Homo sapiens: one gene and its partners. The protein of the gene in region 4 purifies or fractionates together with the protein of the main gene of each other region. This does not show direct contact. Each region holds a gene or a part of one and is shown on either strand. Other genes may lie near its edges. The genes, in order: MTM1, BORCS5, SRGAP2, TRIML2 and SPEN.

Evidence for each region.
Region 1: the proteins of TRIML2 (region 4) and MTM1 purify together in Homo sapiens (affinity purification with mass spectrometry; 2 studies listed by BioGRID and IntAct, with this or other methods). This does not show direct contact.
Region 2: the proteins of TRIML2 (region 4) and BORCS5 purify together in Homo sapiens (affinity purification with mass spectrometry; 2 studies listed by BioGRID and IntAct, with this or other methods). This does not show direct contact.
Region 3: the proteins of TRIML2 (region 4) and SRGAP2 purify together in Homo sapiens (affinity purification with mass spectrometry; 2 studies listed by BioGRID and IntAct, with this or other methods). This does not show direct contact.
Region 5: the proteins of TRIML2 (region 4) and SPEN purify together in Homo sapiens (affinity purification with mass spectrometry; 2 studies listed by BioGRID and IntAct, with this or other methods). This does not show direct contact.

Annotation. Positions count from the first base shown.
Region 1 is NC_000023.11:150,571,590-150,575,199, forward strand, and holds part of MTM1 (myotubularin), read left to right. Parts: intron 1-3,610. UniProt on the Homo sapiens protein: Lipid phosphatase which dephosphorylates phosphatidylinositol 3-monophosphate (PI3P) and phosphatidylinositol 3,5-bisphosphate (PI(3,5)P2). Has also been shown to dephosphorylate phosphotyrosine- and phosphoserine-containing peptides.
Region 2 is NC_000012.12:12,433,498-12,437,107, forward strand, and holds part of BORCS5 (BLOC-1-related complex subunit 5), read left to right. Parts: intron 1-2,130; coding exon 2,131-2,288; intron 2,289-3,610.
Region 3 is NC_000001.11:206,206,453-206,210,062, forward strand, and holds part of SRGAP2 (SLIT-ROBO Rho GTPase-activating protein 2), read left to right. Parts: intron 1-3,610. UniProt on the Homo sapiens protein: Postsynaptic RAC1 GTPase activating protein (GAP) that plays a key role in neuronal morphogenesis and migration mainly during development of the cerebral cortex. Regulates excitatory and inhibitory synapse maturation and density in cortical pyramidal neurons.
Region 4 is NC_000004.12:188,099,529-188,103,138, reverse strand, and holds part of TRIML2 (probable E3 ubiquitin-protein ligase TRIML2), read left to right. Parts: intron 1-1,865; exon of another isoform or gene 1,866-1,879; coding exon of another isoform or gene 1,880-1,888; coding exon 1,889-2,083; intron 2,084-3,610.
Region 5 is NC_000001.11:15,854,100-15,857,709, reverse strand, and holds part of SPEN (msx2-interacting protein), read right to left. Parts: intron 1-3,610. UniProt on the Homo sapiens protein: May serve as a nuclear matrix platform that organizes and integrates transcriptional responses. In osteoblasts, supports transcription activation: synergizes with RUNX2 to enhance FGFR2-mediated activation of the osteocalcin FGF-responsive element (OCFRE).

The DNA of each region.
Region 1 (3,610 bases), on a different chromosome or scaffold from region 4:
CGATATGGAACTCTTTTGTTTTTAAGAAAATACATTATTCTAGCTATGTCTTAATAAACTTTTGGAATCCAGTAGCTTGCTTTTCTCGACATTTCTCTGCATTTCCTTGTTGGCACGAGCTTTTGGTTCCAGGCGACGCTGGCAGCAGTGTCCTCCGTTCTTGCAGTGCTATATTCCCTTTACCATTTGGACTTAGAAATTTCTTGAGGCCAAATTTTGTTGCTACAAACAATAATAGAGCAAGAGAGGCCTTCTTCTAGTTTATCTGCCTTGAAAGTGAGAGTGTATCAGGAGACCCAGTAGGAGTTACTGAGTTAGGTCCCGTTGTCATCCTGTAGTTGGGGGAAGATTTTTCATTGGAAATCTTTGCAGTGTATTTTTCCACTGTGAGTACCACGACAGTCTCATCTTTTTCTTTTTAAGAATGTGGAGGCATCTCTTTAGATAATTGGCATTGTGTACTACTAGTGCTTTCTATTTCTACCAGAGGAACTATGGTAAATGAGCCTTTTGTTTGTGTGAGGTGGTAGAAAGCTTCCTGCATTTGGATTCCAGAAGCTGAGTTCAGGTCCCAGTTCTCTTCCTTAACTCTGTGTCACTGGACAAGTCATTTAACCTTGCTGCTAGTGGCTCTTCCATCTGTAAGATAGAGCTAATAAAACCTGCCCTGCCAAGTTTCCAGAGTTCGTCAGAGAATCAAATGTGCCTCAGAGCCCTTTGTAAAGTGTGCAGCATTATTATTATTGCATGAATGTGTTGTATAAGCAGTTGCTATTTGGAGAACTGGTATAAGAGGGCAGTTGTCCTTCCTGTTCTTGGACTGTCTTCCCTGTGGCTGTAGGTGTGGCCTCTCTGCCTCAATCTCCCTCTTCTGTCATCATTAAAATATGCAGGTATTTATATTGCCTCTTTCATAGGGGCCTGATGTCACTGGTATACCATAACAAGTTTTTGTTTTATGTATTCCTAAAATGGTAGTAGTGTATAACCAACAATCACAGGGTGACAGCAAGGCAAGCTCAGCCTCAGGGAATGTTGCCTGCCTCTCCCAAGTGTCTCAGAATGGAAGACTTTCTCTTTTCCAATCGAGACCTGACCGCAGCTCCTGAGTCCATACTAGACTGGATGCTTGTGCTTCTGGGGTTAGAATAAAAAGCGATCCAGGCTCTGGGGAAGAGATGGTTGATAGCTCCCCAGGTCTGTACCATCCTCCTTGCTGGAACAGGGCAGGCTCCTGAGTGATAGGGCAGGCGCCTGAGCGGCCTTTTCTCGTTAAAGTTGTTTCTCAGTATCTTGAAATGTCTCTGTAAGTTGCACTTTGCAATGAATTTCATGTACTTGTATTAGTTTAGTATTGCTGTTCCTTGACTGTTTGTCTTAATAGGTAACTCCTACATATTTCAGTATGTTTTTCATTTTCTATGATTGTAATAAAAAGGGCGAGGTTGGAGATATTTTTTCTGATTGTCTGAAACCTAAGATGGTCCTATACACACAGTAGACATTTAGTAAACATTATTTAACTTGAACTAGACAAAGGAGGCCAGCTTAGAATTGTTCACACATGATCATTGTAACCAATTCTGTTGCATGTCTAGAGATCATGCTCCCTGTCTGCCAGATGAAATGGAGCTCATGCTTAACCTTTCTTGCCGTGGTCAAACAGCAAATGAGAAAGTTCTTTGAATCAGTCATTGTCTTGCCACCCTTTTCTTCTCAGCTTCTTGATTTTTGAACTCTTGGCATGAGCAGTTTGAGTACAGATTAGTTTTTGCTTTGCTTGCTAGTATGTTTGGGGTGGGAAGTTGAAGGGGGAATAATTGAAAGTAAAAATAAAAGTTGTTTGTAACTCATTCATCTCTTATCCCCTTGCCTCCAAACCCTGACAGCACACAGCAATGCCCTTTCTTTAGCATGTGATAATTGTTATATTTTGATAGCATGTCCTTGAACTTTTTTGTGAGAAGGAAGCATTGTTTATTTCCCAGAGCCTTTTGCTTGGAATGTAATGGATTGCTACATCAGTTATCCTTTCCCCTTCTTGGGAGATGTAGAGGCAGAGGTGGGTTATAAGGTAGATTCTTAGCATCAGGTGGTGGTGCTTTAAATTCCCTTATATGACTTTTAAATTGCTTTATGGCCCTGAGACAACTTAGGTGGGGATTTAGGAGAATAGGTACTATGCTGGAATCCAGCAGGCCTGGAATTGGCCCAAGCTCTTTTACTGAAATAAGAAATGTACCTGCCTGCACAGCAGTGACCCTTGGCCATGACATGAAATATACCTGCGTGTCAGTACTGTTTGTGGATAACAGTAAGAAGGAAAGTTTGCACTTGGTTTCAGTGAGACCCCAGGAGGGCGCTGCGGTTAACACGGGTTATGTGACTAGGAGGATATGAGAAACCCCAGCCAGTATTCCATTTTGAGTTTCCTGGTTCTGAGGTGTTCCTTGCCCATGTCAGTGGTTCTGGATCTGGGAGAGAAAGCACAGGTCCCTACTGCCCTAACAAAGGGAGGACTGACCGTTGGTGCTGGCCCCCACCTCTTTGAATCCCTTGCTTGGAGAGAGAACTGATTTTTTCAAAGTTGAAGCTGAGTCTAACTCTGCTGGACATGTCCTTCCTTCACTATATCAACTCTAATAATCTCCCCAGAGATTCCCATTACGCCTATGGCATGAAACAGGTTTTTCTTATTGATGGGGATTGCCCTTGCTCCCCGGGAGCTGGTGAAACAGGCAGAATTTCAAGCCCCATCCTCACCCACTGAGACCCACCACCGACTCCTTAAGCTGAATGTGAATTTTAATGAGGCCCCCGGGTGATTTTGCAGTAAATTAAAGTTCGGAAATAGTCTAATAGTACCAGCTCATATCCTGGCTTCCCAGTCCTTTAAGATAGCGCTAGCCAATAGAGAATGTGTAATTTAAAATTTTCTAGTAGCCACATTGAACAAGTAAAGAAACAGGTGAAATCAATTTTAATATATTTAACACAGCATGTGCGAAATATTTCAATGTGTCATCGACATAATAATGACACGTTTTTCCTTTTTTGGTACTAAATTGTCAATCAGGTGTATATTTTACATTATAGCCCATCTCAGTTTGGATTAGCCACAGTTCAAGTGTTCAGGAGCTACAGCTGTGGAGAGATACATTTGGTCTTGATTTGCTGAGGATTTCATCAGATTCACTGTCAATGCTTAAATAGCCGCCTCAGTCATAATTTACATTAATATTAGGTGTAATCTTTGCCAAGTCCTTAGCCCAGTGCTTTTACATCAGGTCTCATATGAATCCTCACAGCATCGCTTTGAGGTAAAAACTGTTAAGATCCCCACTGAGTTTCAGAGAGGTTAGGTCTAAGCTGAAGCGTTTAGGAAGCAGTAATATCAGGATTTGAACCCAGGCAAGTCTGACTTCTGGGTTTGCAGCCTCCGCTGCAACTTCCTGCAGCTCTCATGACTACAGGGTTTTTTCTCGGTTTCAGTTTTTAGTTTTGTAAGCCATATTAAAAAGGCACCATTGGTATATGTATGAAATGCAATCTTCTTTCTTGAGGGGAACTTCAAAGAACTCGAGGAATGCCTCTTTCTTCTCTGGCTTTT
Region 2 (3,610 bases), on a different chromosome or scaffold from region 4:
AGGATCTGAATAAGGTCAGATTATATCTATGTCAATATCCTGGTTGTGATATTGTACCATAGTTTTACAAGATGTTTCCATTGAGGGAAATTGGGTAAAGGGGACACGGGATCCTATACATAGGATCTCAATAAAAATTTCAATTAAAAAATTCCCAATTTCTGCTAATACTGGATTCACCAAAACATACTGCCTGGAAGCAGGTTCAGGTCAAGTAACTGGTGCTCTCCTGTGTTAGGACTTGTAGTGCAGCAGCTGAGCAGTGGAATGTGGAGGAGCCTAGCAGTGCCTCGGGTTCCAGCCCTGTATGCTGCTCTGTCTCAGAAGATCTGAGAGCATCGACCAGCATTTCCCAGGATTCTCTGGGACAACCTAGCTGGGTAGCCCTTCATACAGCCTGTCTGGAGGGAGAGAATACTGGCTTCAGCTCTAATATATCAGAACAGTGTGGTGTGGATGTTGGTGGTTGGGGACAGTGAGGGGTGGACATTGGTGGTTGGGGTCGGTGAGGAAGGGTTCCCAAGATGAGCTTTGGCCAGGTGAGGTGGCTTACACTGAGGCGGGAGGATCGCTTGAGCCCAGAAGTTCGAGACCAACCTGGGCAGCAAAACCCTGTCTCTACTAAAAATACAAAAACTAGCTGGCTGTGGTAACAAGTGCCTGTGGCCTCAGCTACTCTGGAGGCTGAGGTAGGAAGATTGCTTGGGTCCAGGAGGTCGAGGTTGCAGTGAGCTAAGATCACGCCACTGCACTCCAGATGGGCAACAGAGCAAGACTCTGTCTCAAAAAAAAAAAAAAAAAAAAAAAGCTTTGCTGTGCCCTGCACGTGACCTACTGTCATATGTATTCTGTGTTCCTTGTGCTGTAGCATTGGCTCTGCTGTGAGACAGAATGGTCTGGCATGTGGTAGGGCGATCACTGGGATCCCCAAGACCCTGCTAGGGAATCTCTGAGGTCAAAACTATGTTTGTAATAATACTTAGACATTATTTGCAAAACATGCTCATTCTCTTACAGAAGTGTCCAGTGGAGTTTTCCAGAGGCTAAATGATGTGAAATAGCAACAGATTAAATGCAGAAGCAGCTATGATATTCCAGCTGTTTTCTATTAAGGCAGACATTAAAAAGACATTAATAAAAATAAACCAGTGGCATCATTTCACTTTTTTGGTTTGGAAGAATATTTTCCTTAAAATGTTATTTTTGTTAATGTATAAAGGGGTTATCATTATATTTAAATGATTTAATATTTAAGAATGTTCTCAGTTTTAATTTTTATAGGTGAATATCAAAAGATAAAACTCACATAAAAGCTCTTTGGGGTCCTTGGTAATTTTTGAGAGTGTAGAGGTTCTGATAATTGAGAACTGTTGATTTGGCAGAAAGCAATAGGCTTAATTTCTAGACTGGGCTTTGCTTTGTGAATGTGGGCATCATTTGGCCTCTTCAATTGATTTCTTCTCCTGCAAATGCTATTAATTGCCCTGCTACATACCTATAAAAATATAATCCCCTATGCAAATACAGGGGAGATTAATGGTTACCTGGCTAAGCTGGTGTTGAAAGAAAATGTAAAGAATGAGTTTCTGGCCTGTTAGCTGACAGTCTGTTTACTTGTTAAATGTCTCCATTTTAGCATCTCCTAGCAGTTTCTGTATACATTTGATTTCTTTTTCTCAGTTTTTCAGACAACCATTTTAATTATTTTTAAAAATTATATTCCCACATTTTCAATTAATAAGGGATTTATATTCCTAGTACCTTGAAGTGATGTGATAAGGTCAGGAGCTCTGTTCTTGGAGAAACCACTTACTAGCTATGTGACGTTTGGAAAGTTACTTAACTTCTCTGTGTCTTGGCTTCCTCCTGTGTAAATGGAGCTAATAATACCTCACTTTCCAGGGCAGCTGTGAATACGAAAAATCGTGCACAAGAAGCACTTAGCAAAAGTGCTTGGCACATAACAGATGCCCCATAAATAATAATTGCAACGATTGTCATTAACATATAACAAAAGATGCAAGATTAAATTGAAGTCTTACCCTGTCTTCAGTGAACTTGTTAAACTACTTTATTCACAAGTTTATTAGCAGTAATTTTAATTTCATTTCATTTTTTTCTCCTTTGAAGGGCTATTGAGTGGCCAGACTTCCCCAACAAATGCCAAATTGGAGAAACTGGACTCTCAGCAGGTGTTGCAGCTCTGCCTCCGATATCAAGATCACCTGCATCAGTGTGCAGAGGCCGTTGCTTTTGACCAGAATGCTTTGGTTAAACGAATCAAAGAGGTAATGTGCTGCGGGAAAATAACATTGCTGACTGGTTGTTGTGATTCTCTGCAACTCTGGATGCCATCTTAAGACTTGACATTTGTCACTATTGCTTTGAGGAGATTGCTTTTTCCCAGCAGTAAAATGTGATGATGAAAAAAGTGGTCCACAGAGCTGGGCTAATTTAGAGTTTGAATTCTGATCACCACTGATTTGCTTGGCCAAGTTGCTTAACTTCTCTGTCTCAGTTTCCTCATGTGAAAAATGGGGCTAATAGTAGTAACTTACCCCAAGGGTTGAGTGACAGATTGCTTAGTAAGTGTTAGCTATTATTAGTGCATGTAAAGTCCTGCCATACTAATTTGCTCTAGCCACCATTCTGTCTTTGAATTGACTTTAATTGTTTCCTGTGTATAATTTATATTTTGTTTCCCAGTAGATTAAAATTTCTTTCAAAGCAGGAGCTTTGATACGAAAAGCTCCAGTGATTCTTAATGGTTTTATGGAAACAATTACGCCTATTTAACCCGCAAAGTTTTTAAAGGAAAGAAGCAATGTAATTCATGTGAAAGTACTTAGTAAACTGAAGCACATGATGCAAATGTTGTGTAATTATCAATCTCAGTAAATAGGTACTTCCTTTAAGCACTTAAATGTATCATTGACCAGCTGCTGCACAGCACAGTTCTAGGGGCATAAAGGAATAAGTAAGTACATTTTCCAAAGTTTCCAGTCAAGAAAAACTTTATATTCCTGATACCTTGATGTACTGTAATATCAAGGAAATGTTAGGAGCTGTTTACTGGAGAAACCACTTCTGTGAATGGCACTCCCAGATTTGTTTAACAAAGTGGCCCTTTAACTCTGGTGAGAGAAGATGGACATGGAGAAACAAGTGATGGAGCAAGAATCACTGCAGATTAACAATTTGTATTTAGCAATGGAGGTAGTGTATCCTTGAGATTACAAAGCAGTCATTAGTTATATTGACAGATTTAAATTTGCCAACACCTCCAACATTTTAGTGCTTAGCTTTCATAAAATGTTGCATGCATATACTCTTCTCTCATGGGTTAAATACTATTATTTGGAAAACTATTAAACATGACCTTTGATATTGCTTTTCATTGATGTGGCTTTGCAAATATTATAAACTTATTTTACTATATTATGGTCTACCAAGCTTTACTTTCCAAACATGACTATTCATTGGCATCATGTGAGTTTTTTGTTTGTTTTAATACTGAGTTCTCCCCTCCTCCCAGTAAGTCTAGGTGTGGTCTGTGAATCATTATTTTAATAAGATGTTATGGTTTGGCTGTGTCCCTACCCAAATCTCC
Region 3 (3,610 bases), on a different chromosome or scaffold from region 4:
GCAACCTTGGGAAGGTGTACCATTTGGAGAGCCTTGGGAGAGGCGGGGTTTTTCGGATGCACTATATTAAAACATGAGATTTGCAATGGCATTGGCACCAAAAGTCCATTGCCACCTTGGGTGTACCTTGTACCTGCCTGGTCTCTGGTCGGCCTGCATACAATCAGAGATCAGAGAATAAGGCCACCCACGCCCGGTCTCCGCCCTCACCTAAATCTGAATAGAGTTGGGAGGATGTTAGGGTAGCCGGTTGGTGCTGATTCTGGAAAATGGGAAGACATAATTGTTTAACCCTTCTGTGCTGTGGCCCTCTGCTCCGGAAGACATGCTTTTAAAGCCCCATTTCCCTCTCCTGAAAAATGTGAAGGGTAAAGCAAAATGTGGACTAGGAGAAACCAAGTGACCTGTCTTCTCATCTAGTCGACTGACTTGACTCATGAATAAGAGCCCTTACTCAGATAGCGTTTTTTAAACCAGCAGTTCCCATAGGAAGGGTTCCTGCCTGTTAAAGAGCTGCAGCATGTGTTTGTGCAAGGCACTGTCCCTTCCTGGTCAGTCACTGGAAAGAGCCATGTGGCTCCAGCCCATTGAGACCTTAGCTGGGGAGTGGAAGAGGTGGGTGGCCTTGAATGTTACACCACATGGTTGGAGCTCTGGGTTTTCCTTTGTTTCAGAGTACAGAGGGAGGGGCCCCTCCTTTCCCTGCACCAGTGCAAGGAGACCTTTTCCTATCAGAGAGGACTTGGGAAGGGCCATGGCTCCCCTCTAATGATTGCTGGGGGGTGGGGGTAGGTGTAGAGTTTGAAATGGGCAGCTCCCTTATCTCTTGGAAGGTTGGAAGGTAGTCTGAAGTCCTCATTGTACCTACAGGATCTTTTTTATGTCATTAGTTTGGTCAGTGCTGGAGGTGCCCTAAGGGGCCTTCTATCCACTTGGCTGCAAATATTGGTAGGTTTATTACAGAGATGGGGGAGTTGACTGATTGATAGCTTCAGTTGAACTGGGATTGAGAGAGGTGTGGTTGTGAGTTATTATTGAGGTCTTGGCCTCTTGTCACTGTTCATAATCCAGGCTTGTTTTTGTAAACAATAGGCCACTGGCCTCCATGTCCTGTCCAGATGCATTGCATTTGCTCTTGGAATCCCCCCTGCAGTTTTAACCAGATATGTCTTTTTTTTTTTTTTTTTTTAACACATCCTATTCTTAAACTGTTGCCATCGGGAGTGTTAATAACTTTGATCTTCCCAGATTTCTCTCCAGAAGCACGCCATTTGACTAAGGTGCAAAGTGACTTTAAATGTTTAATTTTTGGAAGGTTCAAGGCTGATAGGTGTTAATAGAACCATATCTGCCAATTTCTTATTGGCAAAGGATTTCTCAAGAGTGTCTCAAAATTAAACACTTTGGATATTTACAAACATTGCTCATTGAGATGATGTAATGCAGTCGGCTATTTGGGTTCTCTCTTCAACCTTGCCACAAACAGACTATTTTGCTTTGCTCTGATATTTTCCCATTGATACTATTCAGGATCATAGAATTTTATAGGTGGCTGAGCATGATGTCTTACTCCGAGAAGGTGCCTGATGAATGCTTATGGAACTGATTTGAATAGTTTAGTCCTTCATTTTACAGCTGAGGAGAATACAGAGAACTGAAGAGGCTTGTCCAAGGTCACACGGCTAGATGGTGGCAGATCTGAAACTAGAAGCAGATTTACCAACTCTCAATTCTCTATTCTGTATCTTTACTATGAAACATCATCTGACCAGGGTGGAAAAAAATAAAAAATTCTTAAGGAGCCCAAATCTGTCAATGAATAATAATAGTAATAATGATAATGATAATAGATTACATTTTGGTTGCTCATTATGTTCCAGTCCATCCCAAGTGCTTTAAATGAATGGTCTGGTTTAATCCTTACCTCAACCCAGGAAATGGGTATTATTGTCACCTTCCATTCACCATATAAGGAAACTGAGGCTTAGAGAGGATGAGAAGCCCTTCCAAGGTCACACAGCCAAACCATGGCAGCTTGACTTCATTCCTTTATTCATTAACTATTTATTGAGTGCTTGCTGTGTGTTCTGGTGATTGGCCATACAGCTGTGAAGAAGAAAAAGTCTCTACCCTCATGGAGCTTATATTCTGGAAGCTGGGCTCTCTATGGAACAGCACAGAATTTGGAGACAAAGGGCCTGCGATCTGGTTTGGCTCTGCCCCCGACTAGCTAGAAGCCCTGGGTCAGAATTATTATGAGTGTCAGCTTTTTGTGTGTTATATGGGACTCATGGTGCTGCCAGACTTACTTCTCTTACAGATGCCAAGATAAAAAGAAAATTGCTGTAACAGCTATGCAGTTTGGTTTGGTTGTTAAGTGCAATTTTTAGAGTCAAAGTGATTCAGGTTTAAATCTTGGTTCTGACAGTAGCTAGCCTTTCACTTCAGGCAAGTTACATGACTTGTCTGAGCCTCAGTTTCCTTATTTGGAAAATAGGTAAAATAAAATACATTTCCTAAGATAGTAGTGAGTTGTTGATGAGATATATAAATTATTTAGAACAGTATCTTGCACTTGTAAGTGCTCAATAATGGTACGGTCTACTTCTCTGTGAGCCTTTCTTTTGCTGAATTGGGCTGACTATTGAGGCTGCATTGCATATTCACTCCCAAAGTGCCAGCTATTAAATGATAGGAAATAAGTAAGGAATGAAACTTAAGTTCTAGCTTAAGATCATTTAGTTGTAACAAAACATCTTGGGTCAGTCACTTAAACCCTCTGGACATCAGTTTCTTTTTCTGTCAGTGAACAAGTAAACTAATTATTGGCCACTGTGGTTCGGCCTGTCTTTGACCAGAGTCCCAGGTCCTGTTTTTTCAATCAGAATTGTTTGAGTCAAATGGACTCTAAATGGGACCCTCATCTCATGGGACTTTCTGGGACCCTCCCTATCCCTTGATTTTTGCCTCCCTATAAACCACCTGCTTGCATGTGCCCTGAGGAACTCCTGAGGCTTCAGCCCCAACCCTACCCCAGAGTGGTTTTATGAGGGGTGTGCCTCCTTAGTCAGCCTGCCTTGTAGTGTCTTCTTAAAAACCATCATTGTTTCTGGTTTGTGGGTGCCCAGATTCCTTGGAAAGTTCATGCCTCTCAATGTCTGACTTGAAAGCAATAATATTCTTAGTCTTTTTACATAGCTCTTTCCAATTTACATTATGCTTTCATATGTAGTTGTCCGTCAGTATCCTCAGGGGATTGGTTCAAGGACTACCCCCACTTCCCCCAGGATACCAAAATCTGCAGATGCTCAAGTCCCTGATAACTAATGGTGTGGTATTTGCGTATAACCTATGTACACACGTCCTTCTGTATACTTTAAATCATCTCTAGATTACTTATAATACCTAATACAGTGTAAATGCTATGTAAATAGTTATACTGCTTTTAAAATTTGTATTATTTTAAATTGTTGTATTGGTATTTTTATTGTTTTTTTTTTTTTCTTGAATATTTTCCATTCCCATTTGGTTGAATCTGCAGATATGGAACCTGCAGGTATGGGGAGGGCTGATGTACATTAATCTCTGGAAATTCTTTACAACCCTGGTC
Region 4 (3,610 bases):
CAGGTGACTGAGGCAGGAGAATGGCATGAACTTTGGAGGCGGAGCTTGCAGTGAGCCGAGATGGCGCCACTGCACTCCAGCCTGGGCGACAGAGCGAGACTCCGTCTCAAAAAAAAAAAAAAAAAAAAAAAAACCAAGAGAGTAAAAGCAGAGGTGGAGAGACGTGCAAAGGGACTTGCAATAATTAGGGAGAGATGATGGTGAGCTGGGGGACAGGTAGAGCAGTGGTGAGAAGTAGTCAGGTTCTTGATAAATCTTGATTTCATTGAATCTTTTTTTTTTTTTTTTTGAGATGAAGTTTCGTTCTTGTTACCCAGGCTAGAGTTCAGTGACGCGATCTCGGCTCACTGCAACCTCCGCCTCCCGGGTTCAAGCAATTCTCCTGCCTTAGTCTCCCAGGTAGCTGACATTACAGGGGCCCGTCATCATGCCTGGCTAATTTTTTTATTTTTAGTAGAGACGGGGTTTCACCATGTTGGTCAGGCTGGTCTCGAACTGCTGACCCCATGATCCACCTGCCTTGGCCTCCCAAAGTGCTGGGATTACAGACGTGAGCCCGGACAATTTCACTGAATCTTAAATAGCTTAATAGAGATGCTATTTAAGCATCTCTAAGATGACTACTTTCAAATATATATCCCTAGCTCAGATTTCCAAATGGTAGTAGGCTTCATGTCCAATTTCCTACTTACTATCTTTACTTGGATGTCTAATTGACTAATCAAATTCATCACATCCCGAGCTAACGCACACTCCTCACTTCTGGAATCCAGCCTTTCCATAGATTCTCTCTATATATTTTGGTAATTCCATTCTTCCAGTTGCTTAGTCTAAAATTTTTGGTGTCTTTCGTCCATGACTCCTTTTTTCCCCACAACTCTTACCCAAGCATCAGCAAATCCCATTGGCCCTTTTCCAATGTCCTGGTCTCCTCCTCTGTTTGACAGAGGCTATAGCTTCCTTAGTTTTTCCTTATTGATGAACATTTCTTTTTTTTTTTTTTTTTTTTAAGATGGAGTCTCCCTCTGTCGCCCAGGCTGGAGTGCGGTGGCGCCATCTCGGCTCACTGCAAGCTCCACCTCCCGGGTTCACGCCATTCTCCTGCCTCAGCCTCCCGAGTAGCTGGGACTACAGGCGCCCGCCACCAAGCCCGGCTAATTTTTTGTATTTTTAGTAGAGACGGGGTTTCACCGTGTTAGCCAGGATGGTCTCGATCTCCTGACCTCGTGATCCGCCTGCCTCGGCCTCCCAAAGTGCTGGGATTACAGGCGTGAACCACCGCGCCCAGCCAATTCATTGATGAACATTTCTTCGTCTGCATTTTATGTTCTAAAATTGTGTTGATGTCTTGGCTGATGTTGACTCAAATTCTATTTCTCCTTTGGGTTTATTCCTTTTCTTCTGTACTTTACATTTCCTCGTCTTTTTTTGTTTGTTTGTTTTTTTGAGACAGAGTCTAGCTCTGTTGCCAGGCTGGAGTGCAGTGGCGTAATCTCTGCTCACTGCAACCTCCACCTCCCAGGTTCAAGCGATTCTCCTGCCTTAGCCTTCCGAGTAGCTGGGATTATGGGTGCTCCCCACCACGCCCAGCTAATTTTTGTATTTTTAGTAGAGATGGGGTTTCACCATGCTGGCCAGTATGGTCTCGATCTCCTGACCTCGTGATCCACCCACTTTGGCCTCCCAAAGTGCTGGGATTGCAGGCGTGAGCCACTGCGCCCAGCCTTCCTTGTCTTTATATTGGGGTTAGAGATGGAAAGAATACATTGTGGTCAGTGTAAGATATATATATCTATATATAGATATAGATATCTATCTATTATGACGTGTGTGTGTGTTGTTAATCTATCATGTTTAACCTGAAGTCTATCATGTCTATATGAGGAAGGAAGAGGAACAAAATTTTAAAAAGATGATTGAGTCTGAGTATAGTATGAGACTCCGGTTGTTGAATGAAGAGTGTGAGCAGAATCTCCAGAGACAGCAGGAATGCATATCTGACTTGAACCTGAGAGAAACCCTTCTGAATCAAGCGATCAAGCTTGCCACCGAGCTAGAGGAGATGTTCCAGGAAATGCTACAGGTGAGATATTGAAAACAACATCCTCATATTTGAGAAATGAGAAAAAGAAGAGCTAAACATTATGTCAATTCCAAAATAACATAGCCAGTGACAACCACACATGTATTAAATGAATTATATACCTACCTGGCAACTCCATTTCTATGAATTTATCTTGACATGCATATAAAAAGACATAAATAAAGCACAATATACCTATAAATATATTTGTACACATATTACTGTATTATGCTTCAAACATACTTACACACATAGAAAAAGACACCTGGGTAAGGCAACACTGAAACTGAGTTTCAGTTTAGAGCCATGGTTTAGAATTCACCTTTCTTTTTTTTGAGACAGAGTCTGGCTCTGTCTCCAGGCTGGAGTGCAGTGGCGCAATCTCAGCTCACTGCAAGCTTCGCCTCCCGGGTTCACGCCATTCTCCTGCCTCAGCCTCCCAAGTAGCTGGGATTACAGGTGCCCGCCACTACGCCCGGCTAATTTTTTGTATATTTAGTAGAGACGGGGTTTCACCGTGTTAGCCAGGATGGTCTCGATCTCCTGACCTCATGATCCACCCGCCTCAGCCTCCCAAAGTGCTGGGATTACAGGCGTGAGCCACCGCGCCCGGCCTAGAATTCACCTTTGAAGCCGGATGAATGGAGTTCCTATCTGAGCCAGCTGTTTACTGGCTCCTGGGTGGCCTACGACCTGCTGCTTAACCTTTGACTTGGTTCCTTTAGCTGTAAACTGGATATAACAGTGACCCCTAATTTATAAAATTATTGTGAGATTTGAGTGAGATAATCTGCTAAAGCTTATTAAATCGTGTCTTGTTCATGTTAAGCAGTTGATGAGTAGCAGATGTTACAATTATAACATTCATAGCAAGAGGTTAGAAACACCCTGTATTTGTCAATAGAAGACTCACAAAATGTGCTCCATACATACATGGAAGAATACTCTTCAGCATGTTAAGATGATGTCATGGCTCTGTGTATATGAATAAGGAATGTTCTCCAAGAATAAAGTAAGTTGTCAGATTAGTAATCAAATATAATAAACTATCACTTATGTTTATGTTTTTTCCCCCTAAATAACATACTCAAGTTGCGTATGTGACTACGCAGTATATGTAAAGTATACTTGGAAGGATAAAAAGAAAATTGATATCAGTAACGTAATTATTTATTTCTTATTAGTTAATCTATATACCTTAATTTTAATTGATTTCAAGTTAATGAAAAAATAGGGAACCTTCTGAACAAACAGCCACAGAAAAAACATGAAATGTTTTAGGTGCATATTAATGTGAGTAAGGGCTGCGTGCACACACATCTGTATTGGCTTAAACATACATAACAGGGGGCAAAGAATCAACTGTCTCTTGAGAGGAATCCTGCTTCAGCAGAAGAATATCATGGCCTTGCCTAATTATGTCTGTTCCTGGGGTAGCAGGCAGAAAAGCAGGGTTTTTTTTTTTTTGGTTTTGGTTTTGGTTTTTTTTTTTGATTTGGAGTCTTGCTCTGTCATTCAGGCTGGAGT
Region 5 (3,610 bases), on a different chromosome or scaffold from region 4:
CAACCTGGGTAGAAAAAAAACAATTTTTTTATGAAAATAAATAAATAAATAGGGGCCGGGCACGGTGGCTCACGCCTGTAATACCAGCACTTTGGGAGGCTGAGGCAGGCAGATCACTTGAGGTCAGGAGTTCAAGACCAGCCTGGCCAACATGGTGAAACCTTGTCTCTACTAAAAATACAAAAACTAGCTGGGCGTGGTAGCACACGCCTGTAATCCCAGCTACTCAGGAGGCTGAAGCACAAGAATAGCTTGAACCCGGGAGGCAGAGGTTGCAGTGAGCTGAGATCACGCCACTGCACTCCAGCCTGGGCAACAGAACGAGACTCCGTCTCAAAAAAAAAAGGCTGGGTGCAGTGGCTCACACCTGTAATCCCAGCACTTTGAGAGGCCGAGGCAGACAGATCACTTGAGCCCAGGAGTTCGAGACCAGCCTGGGCAACAGAGTGAGACCTTGTCTCTACAGAAAATACAAAAATTAGCCGAGTATGGTGGTGTGCGCCTGTAGTCCTAGCTACTTGGAAAGCTAAGATGGGAGGATCTCTTGAGCCCGGGAGGTTGAAGGGACACAGTAAGCAGTGATCACACCACTGCACTCCAGCATGGGTGACAAAGTGAGATCCTGTCTCAAGAAAAAAAAAAATACAGGAAGGAGAAAAGCAGATAGGCCATAACTGATGGTTGTTGGAGATGAACGAGAGGAACTTGGGATTCACTGACTATTGTGTCCACTTTTGTGTATGTTCAAAATTCCTGAGATAGAATTTTTAAGATATATAACACAAATTGATCATATAGTAATATATATGCTTCTTTACTAACACACCAAATAAAAGTATCTAGGCCAGGCGCAGTGGCTTATGACTGTAATCCCAGCACATTGTAAAGTCGAGGTGGGCGGATCACCTAAGATCAGGAGTTCAAGACCAGCCTAGCCAACATGGTGAAACCCCGTCTCTATTAAAAACACAAAAATTAGCTGGGCATGGTGGTGGGCGCCTGTAATTCCAGTTACTCGAGAAACTGAGGCAGGAGAATTGCTGGAACCTGGGAGGCAGAGGTTGCAGTGAGCCGAGATCATGCCATTGCACTCCAGCCTGGGTGACACAGCAAGACTCTGTCTCAAAAAAAAAAAAAAAAAAAAGTATCTGGCAGCAGATCTAACAGCCACTGTAATTTCCAAGTTGTGATGACAATAATGAAGTATTTGCAAAAACTGTAATATAAAATATGAAAATATATATGATTTGTATTGGTGACGAAAATCACAACTACTATTAGTTTTCTCTATATTATAGTTGAAGGAAATATTAGATCCCAGTAAGAAGTTACTAAAAATAAAGAGGTATTTTCCCACCCAAGTTTAGTACTTCCTCCTGAATTCTGATCGATGAGGTCTTCATTAAAGATTCTAACATCTGGCCGGGCACGGTGGCTCACACCTGTAATCCCAGCACTTTGGGAGGCCGAGGCGGGCGGATCCTGAGGTCAGGAGATCGAGACCATGCTGGCTAACATGGTGAAACCCCGTCTCTACTAAAAATACAAAAAAATTAGCCGGGTGTGGTGGCAGGTGCCTGTAATCCCAGCTATTTGGGAGGCTGACGCAGAATGGTGTGAACCCAGGAGGTGGAGCTTGCAGTGAGCCGAGATCACACCACTGCACTCCAGCCTGGGCAAGAGAGAGAAACTCCGTCTCAAAAAAAAAAAAAAAAAAAAGTTCTAGCATCCTTTTCACACAATAAAGTAATAAATTACTCTTTTATCTTTTAATCCAAGGACACTTTTAAATAATCTTGAATGCAAATGAGCCTTCACTGCAAACAGCATAATTTTTTTTTTTTCTCGAGACAGAGTCTTGCTCTGTCACCCAGGCTGGAGTGCAATGGCATGATCTTGGCTCACTGCACCCTCCACCTCCTGGGTTCAAGCGATTCTCCTGCCTCAGCCTCCCGAGTAGCTGGGATTATAGGTGCTTGCCACCATGCCAGGCTAATTTTTTGTATTTTTAGTAGAGATAGGGTTTCACCATGTTGGCCAGGCTCGTCTCAAACTCCTGACCTCATGATCCGCCCGCCCGCCTCAGCCTCCCAAAGTGCTGGGATTACAGGCATGAGCCACCGCACCCAGCTGCAAACAGTGTAATTTAAAAAAATTACTGGTTCAGACAAAATACTTCTACCTACCAATTTGATTGGTAAAAGACAAATCGCTATATGTTAAATATAGTTTTGTAAACTGCAAAATGTTTTTTGAGTACATAAGCCCCAGTTTTTAAATCAAAGGAAAAATAAATGATGTGTAAAAAAAAAATCACTTTTAGTCAATTTTAAGAATCAAAGAAACTATAAATGTATTATATGTAAAAGTACATACGTTATGTGTAACATAATGGGAATATAACAATCAAAGTCAATACAATGTATAATTAAAAGAATCTTCATATCATTTGGCAATGTTCCCTAGTGACCCAAACAGCATCTAATACAAAGACAGGCACATGCAACCCTTGCATTTAAGGCTGGACTAAAAATCTAGCACCAGGTACACAGGATAAGAAATAGTGTTTCTCATTTGAATTTTCCCACAAATCTTCCTTAATTCTAAGGATTGGAGCAGTTCCTTAAACTATATAATACAAATCTTTAAATATGCTAGAGTTCATTTCATTTCTATACTCAAAATGAAATCATAAGTAATTAAATCCAAGAATTCACTAAATTTAAGTTAGGATTTTATAGAGCCATTCCACTATGGTTTTTTTAGATGCTTGTAATCTTCAACTTGGCAGACAGGAATACATGTAGGGAGAACAATCTGAATATTGAGATACTTTAAAATTATATCCAAAAAATCTTTTCACTCACTGCAAAGCATATTTCCACACACTAAAAACCAGCTAGATATCACATAAAAATTACATGGTTTTGGCCGGTCGCGGTGGCTCACACCTATAATCCCAGCACTTTGGGAGGCCGAGGTGGGCAGATCACCTGAGGTTAAGAGTTCGAGACCAGCCTCAACACAGAGAAACCCCGTCTCTACTAAAAACACAAAATTAGCTGGGTGTGGTGGTGCATGCCTGTAATCCCAGCTACTTGGGAGGCTGAGGCAGAATTGCTTGAACCTGGGAGGCAGAGGTCGCGGTGAGCCGAGATAGCACCATTGCACTCCAGCCTGGGCAACAGGAGCGAAACTCCGTCTCAAAAACAAACAAAAAAAAACTACATGCTTTCTAATAAAATGATTAACATTCTAATTGGTTTCCACAGAGGAGTACACTATTTTCATTCAAAATATGTGTAGCTGTAAGGCAAGTAAAAATAATAAGTTTAAAGAAAAATTTAAACCAAATAGTAAAGAAGATTGTTAATTTAACTACAGATAAATGTACTTTATTTAGTCTCCTTGTTCAGCAGGCTAATATATGTGTTTCAAGGGGCTGAACAGCACTTATTTCAAATCATCTAATAACACAATTCAGGAGCCCAATTTAATGAATATATACACTCAAGGTATTTTCAGACTACATTATTTACTCTAAATACTGTGGATGGTTAACTACAGCTCAAACTAACACTAAAAATGTTTTAAAAATAAAAGCAAGCAG